Homo sapiens: one gene and its partners. The protein of the gene in region 1 binds, or shares a complex with, the protein of each later gene. Each region holds a gene or a part of one and is shown in the gene's direction. Other genes may lie near its edges.

Region 1 (3,175 bases):
TGTCCTTGTATGGAATACGGTTGAGATTCTGGCCCATCTTCTCTGCCCGCTCTAGGGAAGAAAAACAACCTAAGCTGTGGTACAGAGGGAGAAGACAGGTGGGAAGGGACGAGAGGACACAAGCTAGGGGATGGGGAGATGGACCTCGGAGAAGCTCTCTCAGGGGTGCCTTGGCTTTGTCCACAGGCATCTCTCCATACTTGTTACAGATGCTGACAAGGGCCCCATTTGCCACCAGGTCCTGGAATGAAAAGGCCATTATGATGAGAGCCACTGCTACCTCGCTGGCAGTCACTGAACCAACCATGAATGCACAAATGTAGAACTTAATCCTGTAAGTGTCACACAGTAGTACTGACAGAATGGGTTGAGGGTTCCAAAATCTCCCACCAAGGCTCAGACTTTACTTCCTACCCATCTCAGGAATTAAGGGCTGAGTACTCACCTCTGCCACTTGATCTTGGCCCCAAAAACAGGCATAGTGCAGGGGCACATTCCCGTGTTCATTCACTGCATTGATGTCTGCCTTGTACTGCAATAGCTGGACCCCATGGCCAGACAAAAAGAAGAGGCAGAAAGTACAGTCAGTTCCAAATGAGATACTGGTGTCAGGGCATGGGAAAAGGGGGAAGAGCACACATGCTTTCTACTGTATGTTACAGTGCCTGTGACTGACCCTCATGGCATGTATGTGATGTGGATGACGAAGGAGTTTGTACGTACCTTCTGTACAATATCACGGTGTCCATGACTGGCTGCCAGATGCAGGGGGGTGTCATCCCCACGGTTCATTACATTGATCCGTGCCCCCCGCATGATCAACATCTCAACCACAGCAGAGCGGCCCTCTCGGCAGGCCCAGTGCAAGGGGGAGAAGCCATGATCGTCCCTTTGAGGAAGGGGCAATGGTCATTGAGCTGGAGGTGGGATGGGGCAAAGGTTTTGATTCCTGAAAAACTGATAATTACATACTCTCTGGGAAGGCTTACCTCTCTAGGACTTTGATTCTCATTCATGCCAGCAACTCCCAAAGCTGTCCATTTCAGACCTTCCCCTGAGCTTCAAACCAAACCAACCACCTAGATATCTCAACAACCTCTATAAAAAAATGTGTTATCTTCACCATATCCCACATCTCATTTCCTTAGGTGGTAGTGCTCTTCCCCTGGTTTCTCTTGCACCCCTTCTGCAACATCTATTGGTCCTTTCTGTTTTCCACCACATCTTATATGTCCCCCTACTTCAGCACTTGTTGCACTGGATTGTAAAAATCTGTTAATGGACTGTCTTGTCTGTTAGACCTTTAAGTTTCTTGAGGGAATGGATTGACAGCAGCTGTTCAGTGCATGTTAGTGGGGGAGAAGGGTGTCTTGGAGAAGGCAGGCCACAACTTATAGAAGAGGGAACAAACTTACTATTTGGCTCTGGTACTGAAACTAACATCTAAAAATGGAATGGAATTTAAATGATGTTTTGGAAGGGTTTATGTTGAAAAGGAGAAATGCTTTTGACTACTGATGAGGTAGATAACAAACCACCATGCAAAGCAGGATTCCCCTACTTAGCAATCCTGTGCATAGAAAACAGAAGAAAATGAGAATGGCTGTTTTGGGATTAAAACTATACCTGATTTTTTTCTTTTCCAAGAAATATGTATTTTATAAAGTAAAGTATACAAACAAAACAAAACAATTGGTTTGGAGCTGGGCCTGCCTGACAGCCTGGGGCCATAAAAGGAAATTCCCTCCAGTTCGGGGCTGCAGATTCAAGGGGCGGAGCAGGGGGCGGTCCGTGGTCTGGGCCAGCAGCCTCCGGATGCCTTAGTGTTGTGGTCACTTCCTGTGTGCGACTCTAGGCAAGGCCTGGAGCTGATCAGGGGTCTGGCCATCCAGATGCCCGTACAGCTGAAGGGGTTGGGGGGTGTGGCCTTTAAGTTAATCATTTTCCTCCACAACTTGCTCGCATCTGCTAACACAGAAATAGCCAAAAGCTTTTCCTTGAGATGGGATTATCCCCAGGAAGCATTACGCCCCCTGTTTATCAGTTGGTCTTGCCTCCTAGACCTTTAATTTGTGCCCTGACTTATCAGCTTCCAGTACTGCCTGTGGCGCCAGGGCAGGCCAAACTCGGGGGGCAAAAGTATGGGCACAAGGGTTCTGTTCACTATCAGGCTGCCTGCCACCTCAGGGCCTGGACTTCTATCTCAAGAAGACCTGCAAGGAATTAACCCCCTCTTCATATCCAGCATATAGCCAACTTTGGCCCCCATACTTTACTCCTCAAACCAGCACCACAACCTTCCAGTTTCATTAATTCCACCCCTTTTCCTTCTGGCAGCATCTTCCTAGAGTCTTCCTAGACTCAGCTAGAGTCTTCCTAGATGCTAGGCCCACTGGGCAACTGCCTAAGCCTCTATTTCCTCACCAACAAAACAGTAACAGTGCTTACTGTCTTTATCAGGGTACCCTTTGAGAATTATATGAAAAATGGAACAAATGACTTTGCAAAGTATTAAAGAGAAATAGTGTAGAACCTAATGGGAACCAGTGAAGTCTAGACTAAGATGACAGGTGATCCTGACCTGTCAAACCTAAAAACTAAACTCCACCAATTTTAAAAAATAAAGAATTTGATTTTGCCACTCTGAGTCACCATCACTACTGCTCTTCTTGCCTTCCTATCTCAGCCAACCTTGTAGAACTGGTGTACATTCACTTTCACTATTTGCTCACCTCTCAACTTTTGTTTTCTTTTTCTTTTTTAAGACAGAGTCTTGCTCTGTGGCCCAGGCTGGAGGGCAGTGGCATGATCTTGGCTCACTGCAGCCTCTGCTTCCCGGGTTCAAGCAGTTCTCCTGCCTCAGCCTCCGAGTAGCTGGGATTACAGGCGCACGCCACCACGCCTGGCTAATTTTTGTATTTTTAGTAGAGACAGGGTTTCACCATGTTGGTCAGGCTGGTCTCGAACTCCTGACCTCGTGATCCACCAGCCTCGGCCTCCCAAAGTGCTGGGATTACAGGCGTGAGCCACCGCGCCCGGCCTACTTTTCAATCTGCCACAAATCTGCTGTATCGAGAGCAGAGATTATGTCAGATTCTGGACTCTAGCACCCAGCACAGAAGGTGTTCATCATAGTGCCTTAAATTAAGGAACCCAATGTAGTCTGATTTCTTCA
Region 2 (7,047 bases), on another chromosome or scaffold:
GGCCAAGATCCATCTTACTTAGCTCAAAAGCTTTCTGTAAAAGTTGATATTTCTGAATTTTTAAGCAAGGAAAACCGACGCATGAGCAGCCGCCTGACCCCTCGTGTCTGTCTTTCCACCCAGAGGAGCTTACCCGCCTTGAGACAGCTGACCCCCGACTCCGCGGCCTTCATCCAGCAGAGCCAGCAGCAGCCGCCACCGCCCACCTCGCAGGCCACCACTGCGCTCACGGCCGTGGTGCTGAGTAGCTCGGTCCAGCGCACGGCCGGGAAGACGGCGGCCACCGTGACCAGTGCCCTCCAGCCCCCTGTGCTCAGCCTCACGCAGCCCACGCAGGTCGGCGTCGGCAAGCAGGGGCAACCCACACCGCTGGTATGGAAGGGGCGCCTGACTGGTCTGCACAGCCCACCGTGCCTCTGCTCCCGCCCGCTTCTTAGATAAATTGGCCACGGCTCAGAAACCTTTTCCAAGCATGCAGGAAGCCTCCTGCTAGAGGAAGCTTGGGTATTACCTTAAATAGTTAAAATAGAAACCAGAGGTTGAGGCCCTGGGATGTTGTATTTTGTCTCAGTAAAATGAAATAGTTGAGTTGGCTTTGAACCACCGGCACGTCCCCGCCCTGCCTTGTCTGGGGATGTTACTGGTGTAAATGAATGCAGCGTGCTTTTAGAGGATCTTGTAGATAGATGTTCTCTTGGATTAGGAGCAGCGGTCCAAGCGTAAGACACGGGCACCTGCGTGGGACAGGTGGGCAGGAGACTGGAGGCAGGGTAGCAGCTCACAGCACAGGGTGGATTTAGGTGAGTCCCGGGAGGCGAAGCCGCGGCTGCTCATAGCGGTTCACTTATGTGCAGTTTGGATCTGGCTTTCTTGGTTTTATAGTCATGACGTTTGCTCTGCAGCTAGAGAAAGGATGTCTTTGCCAGAAGAATTACATTTTGAGCACATTCCCTTTCATGGGCAGAGGGATTCACCAAACGTAGAGGGGCAGTTTTAAAAAAATTTCAGAGGTGTTTTCTTCCTCTAAAGACAGCTTAAACAACAAAATGGTGCGGGCTCCCTCATCATGAGCTGGTATGTGTTGTGATGGTGTACACATCAGAACCAGCTGGGTGAGGAGTAGCCATTAGGGGGCTGGCTCTTGTGCTCTGTTCAAGTTGCATTTGTTTTTGTCTTGATAATAGCGAGGAGAACAGGGTGAAATGGCATGGAGGGAGGGTGTCCCTTATAAAGGCCAGGGAAGGGCTGAGCGCCTGTGTAAAGAGAGGGCTTCCTTGCCTGCCTTTTGACTCCAGAGGGAAAGAGATGTGCCGTGCCTCTTGCTTTAGTGTAAGGACAGAACTTCCCTGTTCACTAGTCAGTGGAGCTACTTTACCCAAAAAGGTGGGTTCTGTTTAAGCAGGCACAGCCTGTGGGCAATCATTTTCTTGCCAAGTTTTGACCTCTGGTGCTTAGTCACACACAAGCAGCATGGGTGTTTTTAGAATTAGGTGCTGTGTTTGGCAGCAGGATCACCTCTGCATTCTGCTTCCCTGGGCTCCTCCTGACCACGTGTGAGTCTGCAGAGCACAGCCAGTGGGATCCAGGGCATCCAATCCATTGCCTGCACCCTGAAGCCTGTGGAGGCAGAACCCAGGCTTCTCCCTGATTCGATGACAGGCTCCCTGCACCGCAGGGCCTGGCCCGGGCATTTGATGGCAGGTTCCCTGCGCCGCAGGGCCTGGCCTGAGCATTGCCTGAGCTGCCTGAGGCTCTTCCTGTCCAGTGTGGGTGTTCCTGTTTCGTTGGAGACATGTTTGCATTATAGGCCGCTTCCCCAGGTCCCCACACATGTTCTGCAGCATAGAGTTTACCTGCCAGGGCACCTTTGCAAAATGGTAGCGACTAAATTCTGAAGCACCTGGGCCCAGAGGTTTGAGGCCAGGCCTTATGGACTTGAGCATTGGCTTTTGACAAGGATGCCAGTGTCTCTAGGCCCCAGCATCCTGGGGACAGGGCCAGAGCATAGGCCATGGTCAGTGCTGCCAGGTTTTGGATCTCTGCCTTGTGCCGGAGGTGAGAGTGAGAGGCAGGATGACAGCAGAGCTGGGCAGACCCTGCCACGAGGGGCCCAGCAGGGGCTGGGCGGACAGAGCTGGCCATGCTGGGAGCAGTGGGTGGAGGCCCTTGAGGGCCAAGTTCAGGCAGGACTTAGGAACTCTAACCCCACTCCAGTAGAAAAGCCCTCAGCCGCCTTACAGAAAATTCAGAAAGGGAGCTGGGTTTGGTAGCTCATGCCTGTAATTCAGCACTTTGGGAGGTCAAAGTGGGAGGATCGCTTGAGCCTAGGAGTTCAAGACCAACCTGGCCAATGTGGTGAAACCCCATCTCTACAAAAAAAAAATTACAAAAATTAGCCAGACATGGTGGGTGCCTATGGTCCCAGGTGCTCGGGAAGCTGAGGTGTAAGATCACTTGAGCCCGGAAGGCAGAGGTTGCAGTGAACCGAGATCATGCCACTACACTCCAGCCTGGGCGACAGAGCGAGACTTGTCTCAAAAAAAAAAAAAAAAAGAAAAGAAAAGAAAAAAGAAAATTCAGATGAGATAGAACCACTTGACCTGTAGCCACCAGGCAACAATGTCACCTCTGCTAATATTTGGGGGGCAGTGGTCTGCTCCATCCTGGGTTGCTGAGGTCAGCAGGCATCAGTTTGCCACCCGCCCCCTCCAGGCCCTGACCAATGCCCAGGGGCAGCTTCTAGGCAGCAGATCTGCTCCCGCTTGCCCCTTCTGTGCTCACACGGGCACCCCTCGCCCACGTCCTGCCCTGGTCTGGCCGAGTCCATGGCCAGAGCATGGTCCTGCAGCCTGCTGGGGCTGAGCTGCACACGGGGTCTTCCTAGGACTTCTTACTGGGGGCGTGGGGTGCAAAGGAAGGGAAGGGAAGAACCTCCTGCTAGGGACTGAGTGGCCCCTGGCCCTCGGGGAGCATGCTCACCATTCTCTGCTGGCTCTGCCTCAGGTCATCCAGCAGCCTCCGAAGCCAGGAGCCCTGATCCGGCCCCCGCAGGTGACGTTGACGCAGACACCCATGGTCGCCCTGCGGCAGCCTCACAACCGGATCATGCTCACCACGCCTCAGCAGATCCAGCTGAACCCACTGCAGCCAGGTGAGGGCCTCGCGGGCCCCTGGCCGCTCAACACCAAGGGCTGCTCCCAGAGCCAGCTGCCATTGGGCTTTTATTTAATTGGGTAAAATGTACATTTACATAAAATTGGCCATTTTAAGTATCTAGTTCAGTGGCACTGATTTCATTTACTGTGTTGTGTAACCATCACCACTGTCAGTATGATTTTTAATTTTATGTATTTTCCATGGTTAGCTTCTTTATCTGTAATCATTCCTGCACTTTAAAAACCTTGATGAAATACAGGAAAATAAATGCTCGAGAGGTACAGCTTACACTTTGTACTGTAATTTAGAGTTATTAATATGAAGTTTTTGGAAACTTTCTTGTAGCTAATTAGGAGAGTGGTAGCTGTGCCCTTGAGCCTGTAAAGCACCAAAGCACATAGTTGATCTAATAAAAGCCTTGTGTGGTTTCCACTGTGTGTTTGTTTTGTAGTCCCTGTGGTGAAACCCGCCGTGTTACCTGGAACCAAAGCCCTTTCTGCTGTCTCGGCACAAGCAGCTGCTGCACAGAAAAATAAACTCAAGGAGCCTGGGGGAGGTTCGTTTCGGTAAGGAATGGGCCTGTGTACGTTGGAGAAGCGTGGCCAGAGCGGAGAAGAGTCCAGAGTCCGTGCTGCTCCATTCCCGCCCACGGGTCTTTCCCACGTGGCCCTGGCGGCCGGGGCTCCAAGGCTCCTGCTTCACGCTCACTTTGACCTCACGTTCACACAAGTGTGTTTTCCCATACAGTTGGCTCAAAGAGGTTTTGCTTCATACACATAGCCAGAAAGCGAATCAACTGATTATTTTTATATGAACTAATAGGAAATTCATTTTTTAGTATAACATCGTATTTTGAGTTCATTGCATTCCTAGTATAGAATGCTTCACTTTCCATGTATTCAACTTCAGAACCCTCAGAAATGCTGTACTGCTCCAGGCGTAGTGGCTCACGCTTACAGTGCCAGCACTACAGGAGGCTGAAGTGGGAGAATCGCTTGAGCCCGGGAGTTTGAGACCAGCCTGCACAACATAGTAAAACCTTACTCAACAACAACAAAAAATAAAAAATTAGCCAGGCTTGGTGGTGTGTGCCTGTGGGCCTAGCTACTTGGGAGGCTGAGGCAGGAGGATCACTTCTGCCCAGGAGTTCAGTGTTACAGTGAGCTATGGTTTTAGCAGTGTACGCCAGCGTCGGTGACAGAGTGAGGCCCTGTTTCTAGAAAAATAACTGCTGTGCTTTGCCTGGGCCTCCTGGAAAGCAGGTGGTCTGAGCATCACCTCAGTCAGGGAGGTGCTTATGGGACCTGAGCAGTGGGAGAGTCTTGGAGTGATCTCTGTTGTGATCAAGGGGCGGTGGAGTTGTGTGTATTTCAGGAAGTCTTACTGTGAATTTTCCCTTTCCCAGACACTTCATCCCTAAAGGCATCAGGCAGGGCATAGCAGGCCTGGGGAGTGGCTGTGGCCTGAGCCAGAGTCCCAGCCCAAGCAGGGAGAGGTGGCCAGCATGCCTGGGCCCAGCGTGACGCTGATACTTCAGTGAGAAGGGAGGGCACTTAGGGACATACACGGGTGAAAGAATTAATCAAGGCTGCAGGAAGCCTTGGTATTTTGCTGTCAAGGAGTCAGCGGCCTGGCAGAAGGGATAAAGGAGAGTGACCCCTGTGGGCTGGCTCAGGATTGGAATGCTGACGCAAACCCCTGGGTTTCAGTGTGTCGGCAGGCATGGATAACCATGGGTCTTGCCGTAAGTTTCTAGCTTTGTTCACCGCAGGGTCCTGGGAACAGTAACGCCCCAGTAACACTGAGCACACCTAGTGTTCAGATGTTGTCTTCTAAAAACCGTTTTCCACTAAAATGACAAGGACTCCTGAGAGAAAAGGCTGATTGCGGGACTGGGATAAGGAAATACAAGATGAGCGGAGACCGTCCTGTGTCAGAGAGCAGTGGACATGGGCATGACGTGGACGTGGATGTCAGCAGAGCAGCCTCCCTCCCATGGCCGGGTCCTTCAGCTGGAGCCCTAAGCTGTGCAGCCCAGCCACAGCCCGTGACCACCAGGGATGCCAAGACCCTGAGTGAGCACCTGGAGCCCATAGGAGGACTGGGCATGAGAACTGCTGTAGAGCTCTTCCCCGAGACACAACGACCCCAGGAGACGCCAGGCAGGCCCCCGGCCTCACGTTCAAAGCCCACTGCTGGAGGCGGCAAGTGGAGGCTGCGTGCATGTGGAATTCCCGGCAGGACTCTTAGCTCACATCTCCTCACGAGGGGGCCGAAGTCAGCCTGGAAGAGGACGTCCTGCACACAGCTGGCCTGTGCCTTCCAGGTGTCAGGGGCAGCCCAGGAGTCAGGAGAGGCTGAGGAACCTTCCAGCTTGAGGAGCCGGACAAGACGTGGCAGCTGGGATTGGGATGCAGACTGTCCTGCAGGGAGAGGCGCTGCTGGGACCGGGTCCTACGGGGGAGGGCCTGGGGAGGGGCCATTCATCATGGCCCGGTCTCAATGGCATCCTGCTTCTGGAGGGGATGCCCTTGTCTGTAGGAAACACGTGCAGAATGTTCCGGGTGGAGGAAAGTCAGGTTAGCAACTTTCAGGTGATTCAGGAAAAAATTGTGCGTACTCTTCTTCCAACTTCTGAGCCTTTAAAAAGAATTTAATGCTGCCTCTGGCTTTAAAAAGCTTTGCATAGATCAGACCCCCACAAGTCCCCGCGCTGCTCCCGGCTTTGCTTTCTCTGGACTTGAGTCCCCTGCGCATCTGTGTGTAGATGTTAACCCGGCGCCAACTCACAGCTCTCCTTCCGCAGAACAATCGAGCTTTCCAGGAAAGCAGCGAGGCACCCTCTCTGCTGTGGCAGATGCAGCAGGTGCAGGTGCGGGGAGGACAGAGGCCTGGCCTCCTCACGGCCCTGCCTTCCACGTGGGGTTTCCTGCCCTTACCACCCCAGCCCACCTCCCGATGAATTCCTTGTACAGTTAAAGTGATCTTCCCTTCTTTCCTCAAGGGACGATGATGACATTAATGATGTTGCATCGATGGCTGGAGTAAACTTGTCAGAAGAAAGTGCAAGAATATTAGCCACGAACTCTGAATTGGTGGGCACGCTAACGCGGTCCTGTAAAGATGAAACCTTCCTCCTCCAAGCGCCTTTGCAGAGAAGAATATTAGAAATAGGTACGTTGGTGTTTAATGACTGAGTTCTTATTAAACAGCTGCGCTGCTGGGGCATGGGAGCTTCAGGTGAGCACACCTGACACCTGGTCATGTGTTTTGTCTGAGTTTGTGATTTCCACATGGTTGCTGGTGGTGGTTCTTGGGTAAAATATGGGTACCACTGCCTTCCACCCCACCAGCCTTTCTGGGCTCCCCTTGGGTTGTATAAAAGCAGTAACTGCTGGATCAGAGATTAGCCGTAAAGAAAGAACTGTGCTTAATGATTTTAAAATACTGTTTTTCTTGCCTGACCTTTAGGTAAAAAACATGGTATAACGGAATTACATCCAGATGTAGTAAGTTATGTATCACATGCCACGCAACAAAGGCTACAGAATCTTGTAGAGAAAATATCAGAAACAGCTCAGCAGAAGAACTTTTCTTACAAGGTAACAGGCTGTTTGCCGAGGAGAGCGTCTTTATGTTGTTGGCCCCCACTCTCTGCTGGCTGGGAGCCTCCTCCCCACACCGAGGCAGAGGGCGGTGGGTCCCAAGTGCCTCCATGTTCCTTACGAACGTGTTTTGGATTTCTTATAGGACTAGATTTTGGAAAGATTTCTTTTTGAGGTAGGGTCTCACTCTGTTGCCCAGGCTGGAGTTCAGTGGCGCAGTCTTGGCTCACTGCAGCCTCCGCCTCGTGGGTTCAAGCGATTCTTGTGCCTTCGCCTCCCAAGTAGC
Region 3 (7,047 bases), on another chromosome or scaffold:
TAAATAGAAATGTGTGCAGATGTGATTGAAGGCCGGGCTCGGTGGCTCACGCCTGTAGTCCCAGCACTTTGGGAGGCCAAGGCGGGTGGGTCACTTGAGGTCAGGAGATCAAGACCAGCTTGGCCAACATGGTGAAACCCCATCTCTACTAAAAATACAAAAAAATTAGCTGGGCGTGGTGGCATGTGCCTGTTGCCCCAGCTACTCAGGAGGCTGAGGCAGGTGAACCACTTTAACCCAGGCGGCAGAAGTTGCAGTGAGCTGAGATCAAGCCATTGTGCTCTGGCACGGGTGACAGAGCAAAACTCCGTCTTTACAAAAAAAAAAAAAAAGAGAGAGGAATCTTTTTTGAATGTTGAATTTTGTGAATGAACTATAAGATGAATTATATTGTTGGTTATTTTGCTGTAATCTCAGATCTCTTCAGAAACTTGACCTAATTATAGATCATAACTGAGAAATCAGTAAGGAGGAAAAGAGGCCATCAGAGTAACCAAAGAAATTATCACATTTCTGCAGTAAAGAGCAAAGTGTACTATAATGGCAACTTACAGAAATTTCCAACAACCAAATTCTGATTTAATTGACAGATTAATTGACTGATTTAATTGACAGATGTATTGTTAGGTGGTGCTGTATTACCAATAAATACTTACGTTTTCTGTTTTGAAGTGGTGGTTATGGAAATTGTCTTAAGCATATAACTATCTTTTGAAGATATAAATAAGGCATGGTCCTTCCCACCCTTAAGTACTTACATTTTGTAAGGGGTAAGAGATGTATATAATGTGAAGGGAACACAGGATAGGATATGTTACAAGAATGTTACACAGTGCTTGGGTGGCCCAGAGAGCTGGGAATGTTACTGCAGTGCATGGCTTGGTCGTGGTGGGTGCCATTTGCACAGAGCATTGAGAGAAAGTTAATGTAGTTGTTTGATTTGCACATATCTTTTATACAATTTGTCTTTAACATCAGGTAGTTCCAGGAGAAATACTGACTCCTTGTTATTGTTTTTTTTTTTTTTGAGACGGAGTCTTGCTCTGTCACCAGGCTGGAGTGCAGTGGAGCGATCTTGGCTCACTACAACCTCTGCCTCCTGGGTTCAAGTGATTCTCATGCCTTTGCCTCCCGAGTAGCTGGGATTACAGGCACGTCTCATCACACCCAGCTAATTTTTGTATTTTTAGTAGAGACGGGGTTTCACTATGTTGGCCAGGCTGGTCTTGAACTTCTGACCTTGTGATCTGCCCGCCTCAGCCTCTCAAAGTGCTGGGATTACAGGTGTGAGCCACCGTGTTGGCCTGTTATTGTTATCTTAAGATATGGGTGTGCTGATGGGTTTCGGTTTGGGTGATGAAACAAGTGAAAAAAATTCCATTAAAAGATTATGGCTGGGCGCGGTGGCTCGTACTTTTTTTTTTGAGATGGAGTCTTGCTCTGTCGCCCAGGCTGGAGTGCAGTGGCGCGATCTCGGCTCACTGCATCCTCCACCTCCCGAGTTCATGCCATTCTCCTGCCTCAGCCTCCCGAGTAGCTGGGACTACAGGCGCCCACTACCACGCCTGGCTAATTTTTTGTGTTTTTAGTAGAGACGGGGTTTCACTGTGTTAGCCAGGATGGCCTCGATCTCCTGACCTCGTGATCCACCTGTCTCAGCCTCCCAAAGTGCTGGGATTACAGGCGGGAGCCACCGCACCCGGCGGCTCATACTCGTAATCCCAGCACTTTGGGAGGCAGGTGGATCACTTGTGGTCAGGAGTTTGAGACTAGCCTGGTCAACATAGTGAAACCCCGTCTCTACTAAAAATACAAAAATTAGCTGGGCATAGTGGTGCATGCCTGTAATCCCAGCTACTTAGGAGGCTGAGGCAGGAGAATCGCTTGAACCCGAGATGGGGAGGTTGCAGTGAGCCGAGATTGTGCATTGCACTACAGCCTGGGCGACAAGAGTGAAACTCCATCTTAAAAAGAAAAAAAAAAAAGACTACGTGGGCCAGGTGTGGTGCCTCATGCCTGTAATTCCAACACTTTGGGAGGCCGAGGCGGGAGGATCACAAGGTCAAGATATCAAGACCATCCTGGCCAACATGGTGAAACCCTGTCTCTACTGAAAATATGAAAATTAGCTGGGCATGGTGGCACACGCTTGTAGTCCCAGCTACTTGGGAGGCCGAGGCAAGACACTCGCCTGCGAGGTGGAGGTTGCAGTGAGCCGAGATCTCCCCACCGCCCTCCAGCCTGGCGACAGAGCCAGACTCCCTCTCAAAAAAAAAAAAAAAAGATTATGTGATTGTGTTGAGGAAGAGACAGTGGGAAGAAAGAGACAACAGTCTGAGAAACAACTCACCTGTGGGCTTTAACAATACAGCCATAGTCACATGGTCATAATAGGTCATTTTCTTAAAAGTTTTTTGTTTTTTAAATAGTTGGAAGTGTTGCTGTGGAAGACCAGCCAGATGTCAGTGCCGTGTTGTCAGCCTACAACCAACAAGGAGATCCCACAATGTATGAAGAATACTATAGTGGACTGAAACACTTCATTGAATGTTCCCTGGACTGCCATCGGGCAGAGTTGTCCCAACTTTTTTATCCTCTGTTTGTGCACATGTACTTGGAGCTAGTCTACAATCAACATGAGAATGAAGCAAAGTCATTCTTTGAGAAGTATGTAAATTTTTACATATATATATATACACACATACGTAGTGTGTGTGTGTGCGTGCATATGTTTTCACATCTGTAACCACAAAAATGTAAGACTGCAACTTAAAAAGTACGTTGTGAAGGAGAGGTACCTGAGGCTATGAGAACTTAAAATGTGGGGTTTGATCTAGCTGGAGAAGTCAGAGAAGGCTTCCAGAGGAAATGATACTTGAAGTGAGATTTGAGATCTGAAGATTAGGTAGGAGTTAACCAGATGAAGAGAAGAGGGAAAAGCATGTGTAAAAGCTCTCTGGTGGGAAGGATCCTGGTAGGTACAGAGGCTGAAAGATGGCCAGGGTAGCTGGAGCAGAGAATGGGATGGGGGTGTGGTATACTATGAAGCTGGGAATTGGTTAGGGACTGGAACAGTAGGCAGGTTCTATTGTTAAAGTGAAGGCATTGAAAAAAAAGGATAGGCAGGTTTTTGGGCCATGTTGAGGGTCTTTGTTTATCCTAAGAGCAGTAGGGAGTTGTATTGGATAGGATTAGATTTGGTTGAGAGTCACTGAAAACTCATCAACAATGGCATAAATAAAAGTTTATTTTTGCCTTTATCTTAAGAAAACTAGGAAGCAGTGTTAGGATTCGATTAGAATAAGAGTAACTGAGAACCCAAACAACAGAGGTTTAAATACAATAAAAGTTTGTTTATTTTTCTCGTAAATGTGGGACATTCGGGATTGGTGTGGTGGGTTCTTCATTACCAGGGCCCCAAGCTCCCTCGGTCTTGTTGCTCTCTCATGCTTTTCATGCAATTTCCACCTTGTGGCATAAGATGGTTTTCCTGCTCTAAGCAGTCACATCAGTGTGCCAGTCAGCAGGTAGGGCACACGGAAACTGCACACACTTCTTCCTTTTATATCTTAACAGTCAGTGGCCACACCTAGCTACAAGGGAAATAAGAAATGTAGTCTTTACCTAAGTGTCTATGTGCCCAGCTGATATTCAGGTTTTCTTTTATGGAGGAAGACAGGAAAAATGGATATTTGGGGAGAGCGAAGCCTTTTTGCTACAGAGTCATTTCTGCTACAGAGTCATTAAAGGACCATGTCGTTATTAGATATATACTTTGAAAGGACCTTTATGCAGTGGGGAAAACAAATGGGGGATAGAATGACTATAGGGACAAGTTTTGGAAGTTATTGCAGTGGTTCTCAACTGGAGGTGGAATTGCTCCTTCCACTAGACCATTTGAAAATGTGTAGAGGTGGCCCGGCGCTGCGGCTCACGCCTTTAATCCCAGCACTTTGGGAGGCTGAGGCGGGTGGATCACTTTGACCTCAGGAGTTTGAGACCAGCCTGGTGAGACCTAGTCTCTTCAAAAAAATGCAAAAATTAGCTGGGTGTGGTAGCTCACTCCTGTAATCCCAGCTATTTGGGAGGCTGAGGCTGGAGAATCGCTTGAACCTGGGAGATAGAGGTTGCAGTGAGCTGAGATTGCATCTCTGCACTCTAGCCTAGATGACAAGAGTGAGACCCTGTCTCAAAAAAAAAAAAAAAAAAAAAGAAAATGTGTGGAGGCATTTTTGGTTGTCATAATGACTGGGCGGAGGAGCAGGAATACTAAATGTTCTAATATGTGCACCTAGGTAGTCCCACTTTACAAAGAATTATCCTGCCCAAAATGTTAATAGCACCCTTATTGAGAAGCACTGGACTAGGTTGTGGTGGAGGTGAAGAGAAGTAGACAAAGTCATGAGACACTTGATAGATTGGCTAGGGAGGTGAGGGAGATGGAGATATCATTGAAATCTCCAGTTTTCTGGCCGTTCTAGCTGGATAGGGGAGCCAATTCCTGACACAGAAAACCCTAGAAGAGGACTTGATTTGTCAGCCTTGGAATAATTTTGAGTTCTGATTTGAATATGCCTTTGACTCATTTAAGAAATGTCAAGTTGATAGGTAGATGATATATGAGAGCTCAGAACAGAGGTAGGGACTAGAACTATTAATTGGAGTTGTGTGCAATATTGATGGATATGGATGAGGTTGACTAGGGGAGAGTATGAAATAAGTCAGTCAGTGGGCTAGGCCCAAGGAGCTCCAAATTTAATGGCCAAGTAGAAGAGATACACAGGAAGAAAACCAGGGGAGGGCTGAGTTATAGAAGCCAAGGGAAAGGAGTATTTAAGAAGGAGGCAGGCTGGGTGTGGTAGCTCATGCCTGTAATCCCAGCACTTTGGGAGGCTGAGGTGGGCAGATCACCTGAGGTCAGGAGTTTGAGACCAGCCTGGCCAACATAACAAAACCCTGTCTCTACTAAAAATACAAAAATTAGCCGGGCGTGGTGGCAGACACTTGTAATCCCAGCTGCTTGGGAGGCCGAGGCAGGAGAATCACTTGAATCTGGGAGGCAGAGGTTGCAGTGAGCTGAGATTGCGCCATTACACTCCAGCCTTGGCGAAGAGTGAAAGTCTATCTCAAAAAAAAAAAAAGGAGGCCGTGCTTAGCAGTGTGAATAATTTTTTTTTTTTGAGATGGAGTTTTGCTCTTGTCACCCAGGCTGGCATGCAGTGGCGCCATCTCGGCTCACTGCAACCTCCGCCTCCTAGGTTCAAGCAATTCTCCTGCCTCAGCCTCCCAAGTAGCTGGGATTACAGGCATGCATCACCATGCCTGGCTAATTTTGTATTTTTAGTAGAGACAGGGTTTCTTCATGTTGGTCAGGCTGGTCTTGAACTCCCGACCTCAGGTGATCTGCCCACCTTGGCCTTCCAAAGTGCTGGGATTACAGGTGTGAGACACTGGGCCTGGCCTGAATGAGAAATGTTTAATACAAGCAACAGAGCCTGAAGTCAAGATTTATCACTTAACACAGGGTAGTAGTAATAGAGGAACAGTAGAACTTAGCACCCCTGGCTTCTATGCCATTATAGTAAATTCATTATATTAGGATGCCTAATAGGAAGTATATAAGGCAAAATGTTCTGTAGCCAAGTGCTTTTGAAAAAAAAAAAAATAAGAAAGGCTGATGACAGAACTTCTACCCTAGAAGCTAATTTCTCTTTAAAGTACTGTCATCTAAACACTCCATCCTTGGCAACATAGATACTGTCACTTAAAAAAACAAAAACATAGCCTGGGCAAAAGAACGAGATCCTGCTTCTACAAAAAGTAAACAAAAATTGAGCCGGGCATGGTGGCTCATGCCTGTAATCCCACACTTTGAGAAGCCAAGGCGGGCAGAATGCCTGAGCTCAGGAGTTCGAGACCATCCTGGCCAACATGGTGAAACCCCATCTCTACTCAAATACAAAAGATTAGCCAGCCATGGTGGCACGTGCCTGTAGTCCCAGCTGCTCAGGAGGCTGAAGCATGAGAATTGCTTGAGCCCTGGAGGTGGAGGTTGCAGCGAGCTGAGATCGCGTAAACAAAAATTAGTGGAGTATGGTGGCACAGCAGTCCTAGCTACTCGGGAGACTGAGGCAAGAGGAATCCCTGAACCCAGGAGTTTCAGGCTGCATTGAACCACTGCACTCCAGCTTAGGCTTCAGAGCAAGAACCTGTCTCTAAAAAAGAAGGAAAAACCTTTTTGCTCTTCCTGTCTCATGGTGTAGCTGTCTCCCCACATAGGAAGCTGGAACGTCATAGGGGATTCTCTGTCTTCCCATTATGGACAGTCTCACCCCTTGCCAGGACCCCATCACCACAGGAGGATAATGGGCAGTTACTGATATAAGAGGCTGAGATTTCTAATTTTATTCAAATCTTAGATCATATATTGATGAGTTGTAATGGGGTAACATAGTTAACAGTTTAGAAATCTGTTGACTATGTGCTTATCAGAGCTGGAGCCCTAATATGTTTAGTCATTGTTTTAAAAATGTTTTTGCATTGATTGCTGTTTTTAGTGAATGCCAAATATATTGTCTTTAATTTTATTTTCTTAGGAAAATTAAGCGTTGTAAAAACAAAAGTACATTTAAGTTTACTAGTTGTTATCAAGGCTAAAGGCTTTATTTTATTGTCTTTGGTAATAGTTGTTGATACCAAACAATGAGTACTTCCACTTTGTTGTTTAGTGATCATATTAAAGTATTGATATTTTAAAAATGTCTGGTACATGTTTCCAATAAATATAGGAAATCATTAAAAATGATGGGTTTTATGAGAATGTTATATATTGATTATTGTTGAGATGCTGAGTACTGTGTACATTGAGTTCATTATACTCTTTTTTATGCCTTTGAAATTTTCATAATAAAACTTTTAAAAGTGGGTTTTGAGAAACCATAACATTTAGTAAAGCAAGGGTTCTTATATTTTCAAATGTCTACCAGTTTCTTTTAAATGTCTCCATTCTAAAGAAACTGTCTACCAATGGTGGGTATATTATTTTTC
Region 4 (7,255 bases), on another chromosome or scaffold:
TGGTCTCATTTGCTCAGAAATCTTTTACTAGCTTTAACCAGAGTCACCTCTAATTAGTGTAACTAGTGCCTCCAGATCCTCCCTGCCCCTAGGAGTCACAGGAATGAGAGGTTGGGAAGCTATTAGGCATTTACCCTCTCTACAAAAGACACAGAAGCAAGTCAAGGTGAGCCAGCTCTCTAACTCTAGGGAATAGAGAGTTAACACACTTTATGGCAGAGACAGGACACATCAGCAAGAGGCCCAAAGTAGAAGCATTGTGCTCAACAGGTTTCCTAGTCTTGCTTAACTATATTAACTATATGGCAGTTAAATCCTCAGCAGAATTTCAATAGTCTCCGAGTGAGCGCACTAAGAATAACTTGACCTGAGGCCGGGCAAGGTGGCTCACGCCTGTAATCCCAGCACTTTGGGAGGCCGAGGCCGGCGGATCATGAGGTCAAGAAATTGAGAACAGCCTGGCTAACATGGTGAAACTCCATCTCTACAAAAAATACAAAAATTAGCTGGGTGTGGTGGCGCTTGCCTGTAGTCCCAGCTACTTGGGAGGCTGAGGCAGGAGAATCGCTTGAACCCAGGAAGGCGAAGGTTGCAGTGAGCTGAGATACTGCCACTGCACTCCAGACTGTGGACAGAGCGAGACTCCGTCTCCAAAAAAAAAAAAGAATAATTTGACCTGTGTTTGAGGGTGGGAGATATGAGAAACTTCTCACTTTAGCAGGATATGCTGAGGGTTAAGATATCTCTGGAAAATCTCCAAATGCTATGTCATCAACTCATTAAAGACAGAGGCATCTCCAAACCTGTACAGTCTTGTCACCTCTCAGACATCAGAACTGCAGAGTGGCAAATCCAGGTAAGATTCAAAACCCAATTCATGCATTCACTGTACATTTATTAAACACCTGTAAGTTGTCAGGCACTGATCTAGGGACTGAGAATATAAACATGATATATGGAAGTATACCCATCCATTATTATTTACCTTTATTATGCCCAACCTCTCAAGGGTGCAGGCAGGAAGTTCTTCTCCTGTTGCCTAAGGAGCACCAAATAAGTCTCCATTCTCATTTCTGTGCCTCTGATCATGGGGTACCCACCTGAAACATGCCCATCATAACTCACCTACCCAAATCCTCACATCCTTCAAGGCCAGCTTAAGTCTCCCTCCTTTTGGAAGCCCTGACTTCCACTCCATCCCTAAATGATGTCTCTGTTCTCTGAGCTGCTAGCAATTACAGCGAGTAATACCATCCACCATCCATTTATTTAGAAATTTATTGTCCTGCAACTGATACTTTTATTTCTTCAACAAATCTTAAGTACCTACTTATATTGCTTTTTAAAATCTTCCTGTAAAGACCTGGGTTGGTACTCAGTGCTTAATATCTATTAATAACAATTTATTAGCGCCTTAGGCTTATATGGTCCAAGCTCACTCAAACTGAAGTTACATAAAGTAATGGGGAACAAAAGCTAACGAAGGCATTTCTAAATGAACTTCCACTTCTTAAAAACCTCAAAAGAACAAGGAAGGAAAAAGAAATCAGGCTATGAAAGCGCTGCTGAACTAACACATTTAACTCACACTAACAAAGCACCCCCAATCCCCCTTCGAAGCCACACAAAACTGATGTTTTTCCCTCGGTCCTTACAGCTCCAGATTGAAGCGTTTAACAACAGACCTTGGAAAAGTTTACAGCATCCTTCGGTTTCCTAAACAAGTCTCTCTGCCTTTATTTCTAGATGAATAAGCCCCTGGATGAATCCTGCATATGCCACTTAGACTAATCCAATGAGGTTCACTACAAGGAACTACAATTTGAACTTCAAGCACAAGAGAGGCTCAAAGACGAACATCTTGAAAATGATACATCCAGAGGCAATTTTAATAAAACAAAAGCGAGGGGCCAGGCGCGGTGGCTCACGCCTGTAATCCCAGCACTTTGGGAAGCCGAGGCGGGCGGTTCCTGAGGTCAAGAGTTCGAGACCAGCCTGGCCAATATGGTGAAACCCCGTCTCTACTAAAAATACAAAAATTAGCCTGGTGTCGTGGCGGGCGCCTGTAATCCCAGCTACTTGGGAGGCAGAGGCAGGAGAATCGCTTGAACCCGGGAGGCGGAGGTTGCAGTGAGCCGAGATCGCGCCACTGCACTCCAGCCTGGCTGACAGAACAAGTCTCCGTCTCGAGGGAAAAAAAAAAATAAAGCGAGGTCCTGTGTAGCCTGGTGGAAGGTTCCAAGTTCCTCAGAGAAGAAAATCAATAGAATTTCCTCCAGAGGAGCCTCGAGATTCTACAAGGCGTAGGAGTTTCTGCAGGAGGTGAGGGAGATCTCATATATATATATATAAGATATACATATTTGCTCTTAATTGGCTTTTGTGAGCTACGATAGCTGGCACCCTGTAGCGAGCGAGAGTGAACCCTGGCTGTGCCATGCGGCGGAGGCTGCCACCTGGGCACTCCCACCATTCTTCGCAGCCGGGTCAGAACGGGAGACCAGGCGAGCCCGGAGCAGCGTGGACTCGGACCTGCGCGCCCTCCGGTACCCTGGCCCGCGGGCCGCCTGCCTCGCCCCGGGCACGCCACAAGCCCACCCCGCCCGAGTCTCAGGACCCCCGATCTCTCTGGGGACCCAAGAGACGGGTGGGGGAGAAAGGGTCTGCAGGCAGCGGCCCGGCCCTGGCGCGTACCCACCTGAGCAGACTGGAGAGGGGGTGGCTGGAAGAGCCGAGGCCGCCGCCGCCGCCGCCGCTGCCGCCGCCGCCGCCCCCAGAGCCACCGCCGCCGCCGCCCCCAAAGCCTGAGGAGAGCCGCTTCCCGGACAGCAGCTTCTCCACCGCCGGGAGGTGCCCGGTGCGGGCCGCCTCCAGCAGCTCCTGCTCCTTCCCCATCCCCAGGGCCGCCACCCGCTGGACCCCCTCCCCGAGGCTGCAGCCGAGCCTGCTCGGGCTCCCAAACTTTCCGTCTCCGGGCAACGCACCCCCCAAACCGGCTGGGGACACCACCCCCTCCCTGCCTTTTCCCCACGAGCGCGTCACTTCCGGGATCCGGCGTCACGCGTCACCGCGCCCCCGCGCCCCGCCCCCTAGCTCACCTAGCTGGGCGGGGCTCCGCGGACCAGCGCAGGTGGACTTTGCTGTGCCGAGACACGCCTCTCGGGGCATGGGGACAGCGCCTTGTGGGCCCCCATTATGCAGGTGGAAAGGGACAAACAGGCCCACCTGTACGCGCCTCCCGAAGTGCGCTCCTTCCCCAAAGGTTTTGGGAGCTCCTGGGACAGGAAATACGGTAATTCGTCCAGGCAGCGTAGAAACAAAGAGATAAATGTAACGCGCACCTACATTTCCAAGTCCATTCTTTCAGCACGCATAAATTAAATATGTAATAGGTGCGGGGACCTAGTCATACCCAGGTGAATAAAACGCCCTCCCCCTCGTATCTCAATGAGGGAAGAGAAGAAAATTTTAAAACAGAAATATCCTCACCACTTCATCCTCCCAGTACGTGAACTAGTTCATTAAAGTGAAACGTTCAAAGGAGACACCTTCCTCTCTTTAGGCTTTCCTCTTAGTTTTAATGAGATTAACCAAACTGATAGAAAAGTGTCAGACTTGTAAAAACAAACCTCAATCTTCAGTACTGGCGAACTGAAAAAAATCATTTAATTGGGTAGAAACTATGTGTGTTTTGTTCCCTGGTACTAGCACTGTTTCTAAATCGAAGTAGGCAGTCAATAGTTGTGGATGAATAAATGAATTGGATAAATTCTGCTCGAGCTATATGACTTTTTGTTGTTAAGGTGCTTGCGGAATGGAGGGGAAATGCTAGCAATTCTATGTACACACAGGCCCGCGGTTTCGGGCCAGTTGAAATATACAAGGTTGAGTCCTTGCCTGAAAGTTTACCAGTCCCGGGGAGCCTCATTCCACGACACCGCCATACAACGGAACTGAGTTTTCTCCCAGTCCCCCAACTTTACTCTGAGGGGTTAACGAAGGGATTAACTGACATTGCATTTTTAGACAGGCGAAAAGGAAAAAGTTATTTAGTAAACAAAACTGCGCTCCTTCACAAGTGCTGGTTTCCTAGCGAGGAGGATCCATAGTCTGAGCTCTTTACGTCCAATTTTCCCGCTTCCCACTGTCGCCAAACCAAAGTTAAAATGAGTCCTCTAGTCCTCTACGCGCGCCTCAAAATGACCCCTCAGGAGAGCGGTAGGGGTGATGTCATCGCTGCGCGACGACAGGAAGTAAGATCCTGGCCTGTGCAGCTCGGGTTTCCGAGCTTCTGCCTCAGGCATCTCCGCGATCTCCTCTCCCCTCCAATCCTATCCGTGATGGACGATGCCCACGAGTCGCCCTCCGACAAAGGTGGAGAGACAGGGGAGTCGGATGAGACGGCCGCTGTGCCCGGGGACCCGGGGGCTACCGACACCGATGGAATCCCAGAGGAAACTGACGGAGACGCAGATGTGGACTTGAAAGAAGCTGCAGCGGAGGAAGGCGAGGTAGGAAGAGATGTACTGATGAGGCTGAAGGAATACCCAGAGATTGTGTTACTGGCTGCTCGCCGGGCTTCTGGTTAGTCCCTAACAAGTTACGAGAACTCGAACTCACCAGAATTCCCTCCAGATCGTTAATCTTGAGGGGGAAGAGAGGGGACGACCAAACAAAACTCCAGTGCTGGTTCGGTTCCAGAGGCTCAAGCACTGTTAATATTTTTAGTCTTGTCTTTAGGGATTAAAGCTACTTCTAAGGGAGTTATAATAGCCCGTTGGCTTTGGTGGTGAGGAAATTGGGATCCAATGTCACACTGAGACGTAGTGCAAGAGCTAAAACCCAGGATTCGTAGCACCCCTTTCACCGCAATATGGTTCCTCTTAGATGTTAAGACAACTTTTGTCTTTATAGGAAGGAGGGTCGATCAGACCTGTCAAAGGGAGATAGACTTTTATATCGAAAAGTCTATATCGATATAGACTTTTATATCGAACACGATTTAACCTGAGAGTCGCCCGGGCTGGAGAACAATGGCGCGATCTCTGGCCCACTGCAACCTGCGCCTCCTGGGTTCACGCGATTCTCCTGCTTCAGCCTCCCGAGTAGCTAGGATTACAGGCGCACACCACCATGCCCAGCTAATTTTTGTATTTTTAGTAGAGACGGGGTTTTACCATGTTGGCCAGGCTGGTCTGGAACTCCTGACCTCGTGATCCGCCCGCCTCGGCCTCCCAAAGTGCTAGGATTACAGGCGTGAGCCACCGCACCCGGTGATCAGGGACCCATCAATTGGGTCTGGTGTTTTTATGCTACAGAGAGTTCAGCAGTGTTGCCTAGCTGAGTATCGGTCAGGACCAGAAACTCATCGTTCTCAGGATTACATTTCTAGAAGTAGAATCTTGGGGTCTTACAGCTAGAAGGGATTTAAGAGATCGTGGGTGAACAGTAGATTAGATGGAAATAGCCTTTCAGAGCATAAAGTTGCATCAAAATGTATAAAGTACAAACTTTTAGAAAAAGAGAAAATTTGTCTGGGCGTAGTGGCTCACGCCTGTAATCCCAGCACTTTGGGAGGCCGAGGTGGGTGGATCGCCTGATGTCAGGAGTTTGAGACCAGCCTGGCCAACATGGCGAAACCCCGTCTCTACTAAAAATACAAAAATTAGCTGGGCATGGTGGCGGGCGCCTGTAATCCCGGCTACTTAGGAGGCTGAGGCACAAGAATCGCTTGAACCTGGGAGGCGGAGATTGCAGTGAGCCGAGATCGCACCACTGCACTCCAGCTTGGGTACCAGAGACTCCGTCTCGGAAAAAAAAAAAGAAAAGAAAAGAAAGAAAAAGGAAAAGAGAACATTTGACAAAAGTATTTTAAGGCAGGTTTTTTGTTTGTTTTTTGTTTTTTGTTTTTTGTTTTGAGACCGAGTCTCGCTCTGTTGCCCAGGCTGGAGTGTGCAGTGGCGTGATCTTGGCTCACTGCAAGCTCCTTTAAGGCAGTTTTTGTTTGTTGAGACAAGGTCTCACTCTGTCACCCAGCCTGGAGTGCAGTGGCACAGTCTCTGCCTCCTGGGCTCAAGCAATCCTCTTATCCCAGCCTCCCCAGTAACTGGGACTGCAGGCATGCTGCACCACGCTCATCTAAAGTTTTTGTTTTGTTTTGTTTCGTTTTTGAGACAGAGTCTCGCTCTGCCGCCCAGGCTGGAGTGCAATGGCGCAATCTCGGCTCACTGCAACCTCCGCCTCTCAGGCTCAAGCGATTCTCCTGCCTCAGCCTCCCCAGTAGCTGGGATTACAGACACGTGCCACCGCGCCCAGCTAATTTTTGTATTTTTAGTAGAGCTGAGGTTTCACAAGTTTCACAAGTTGCCCAGCCTGGTCTTGAACTCCTGACCTCATGATCCATCCGCCTCGGCCTCCCAAAGTGCTGGGATTATAGGCATGAGCCACCGCACCCGGCCAGCTAAAGGTTTTTTAAATATTGTTTTGGTAGAGACAAGGTCTTATTATGTTGCCCAGTCTGGTCTCCAACTCGTTGGGCTCAAGCAATCCTCCTGCCTCAGCTTCCCAAAGTGCTAAGATTACAGGTGGCAGCCACCATGCCTGGCCAAGAAGGAAACTTTAAAACAGGTGTCAAGGACAGCAAGGATTTGAATAATTAGCTTAGTACACAGAGGGCTCACTACATATCTAAATTTGCACCGAACAGAGGATAAAATTATGTTGTTTCTGAAACACTTTTAAAAATCGATCATGTACCAGACCACAAAGAAAAATATGAACTCTTAAAAGTAGAAATCATAACAGGCCACATCTTGTTAATGTAATGCATTAAACTTGAAATTAACTACAAAAAGCTTCTCCCCCACCAAAAAAGAACTAACCCCCTGGAAATTTTAAACTATTTTTTAAATAGCCTTTAGACTAAAGAAATTAATAGAACACTTTATCAAAGTATATGGGATTTGGCCAAAGCTTTATTTAAAGAAAAATATATAGCCTTACATATTTTTATTAACAGCCAGAAGATATTGCAAATAAGCACCTAACTCAAGAAACCAGAAAAAGGGCCTAGTGGAGTGGGTCACGCCTGCAGATCTAGCTACCTGGCAGGCTGACACAAGAGGATCACTTGAGGCTTCAGTGAGCTATGATCCAGCCTGGGCAACAGAGCGAGTCTGGGGGAGAAAAAAAAGATAAAGAACAAAATAAATCAGAAGAATGTAGGAACAAGGAGTTAATAAGGATAGAAGTAGAC

Evidence for each region.
Region 2: TAF10 (region 1) and TAF4 share a complex: the UniProt entries of both Homo sapiens proteins name them as parts of the TFIID basal transcription factor complex.
Region 3: TAF10 (region 1) and TAF5 share a complex: the UniProt entries of both Homo sapiens proteins name them as parts of the TFIID basal transcription factor complex.
Region 4: TAF10 (region 1) and TAF11 share a complex: the UniProt entries of both Homo sapiens proteins name them as parts of the TFIID basal transcription factor complex.

What each region holds. Positions count from the first base shown.
Region 1 is NC_000011.10:6,605,760-6,608,934, reverse strand, and holds the end of TAF10 (transcription initiation factor TFIID subunit 10), read left to right. Parts: coding exon of another isoform or gene 1-51; 3' UTR 52-144; coding exon of another isoform or gene 145-241; 3' UTR 242-445; coding exon of another isoform or gene 446-541; 3' UTR 542-723; coding exon of another isoform or gene 724-889; 3' UTR 890-2,641; downstream 2,642-3,175. Other genes in the region: scaffold protein ILK, read right to left, coding at 1-51, 145-241, 446-541, 724-889. UniProt on the Homo sapiens protein: The TFIID basal transcription factor complex plays a major role in the initiation of RNA polymerase II (Pol II)-dependent transcription.
Region 2 is NC_000020.11:61,999,835-62,006,881, reverse strand, and holds part of TAF4 (transcription initiation factor TFIID subunit 4), read left to right. Parts: intron 1-123; coding exon 124-372; intron 373-3,003; coding exon 3,004-3,151; intron 3,152-3,607; coding exon 3,608-3,722; intron 3,723-4,253; exon of another isoform or gene 4,254-5,068; coding exon of another isoform or gene 5,069-5,735; intron 5,736-5,962; coding exon of another isoform or gene 5,963-6,135; exon of another isoform or gene 6,136-6,154; intron 6,155-6,160; coding exon 6,161-6,330; intron 6,331-6,627; coding exon 6,628-6,758; intron 6,759-7,047. Other genes in the region: uncharacterized protein LOC105372704, read left to right, coding at 5,069-5,735, 5,963-6,135. UniProt on the Homo sapiens protein: The TFIID basal transcription factor complex plays a major role in the initiation of RNA polymerase II (Pol II)-dependent transcription.
Region 3 is NC_000010.11:103,370,929-103,377,975, forward strand, and holds part of TAF5 (transcription initiation factor TFIID subunit 5), read left to right. Parts: intron 1-2,429; coding exon 2,430-2,667; intron 2,668-7,047. UniProt on the Homo sapiens protein: The TFIID basal transcription factor complex plays a major role in the initiation of RNA polymerase II (Pol II)-dependent transcription.
Region 4 is NC_000006.12:34,885,043-34,892,297, reverse strand, and holds the start of TAF11 (transcription initiation factor TFIID subunit 11), read left to right. Parts: upstream 1-4,255; 5' UTR 4,256-4,340; coding exon 4,341-4,511; intron 4,512-6,266; exon of another isoform or gene 6,267-7,255. Other genes in the region: ANKS1A (ankyrin repeat and SAM domain-containing protein 1A), read right to left, coding at 2,699-2,895. UniProt on the Homo sapiens protein: The TFIID basal transcription factor complex plays a major role in the initiation of RNA polymerase II (Pol II)-dependent transcription.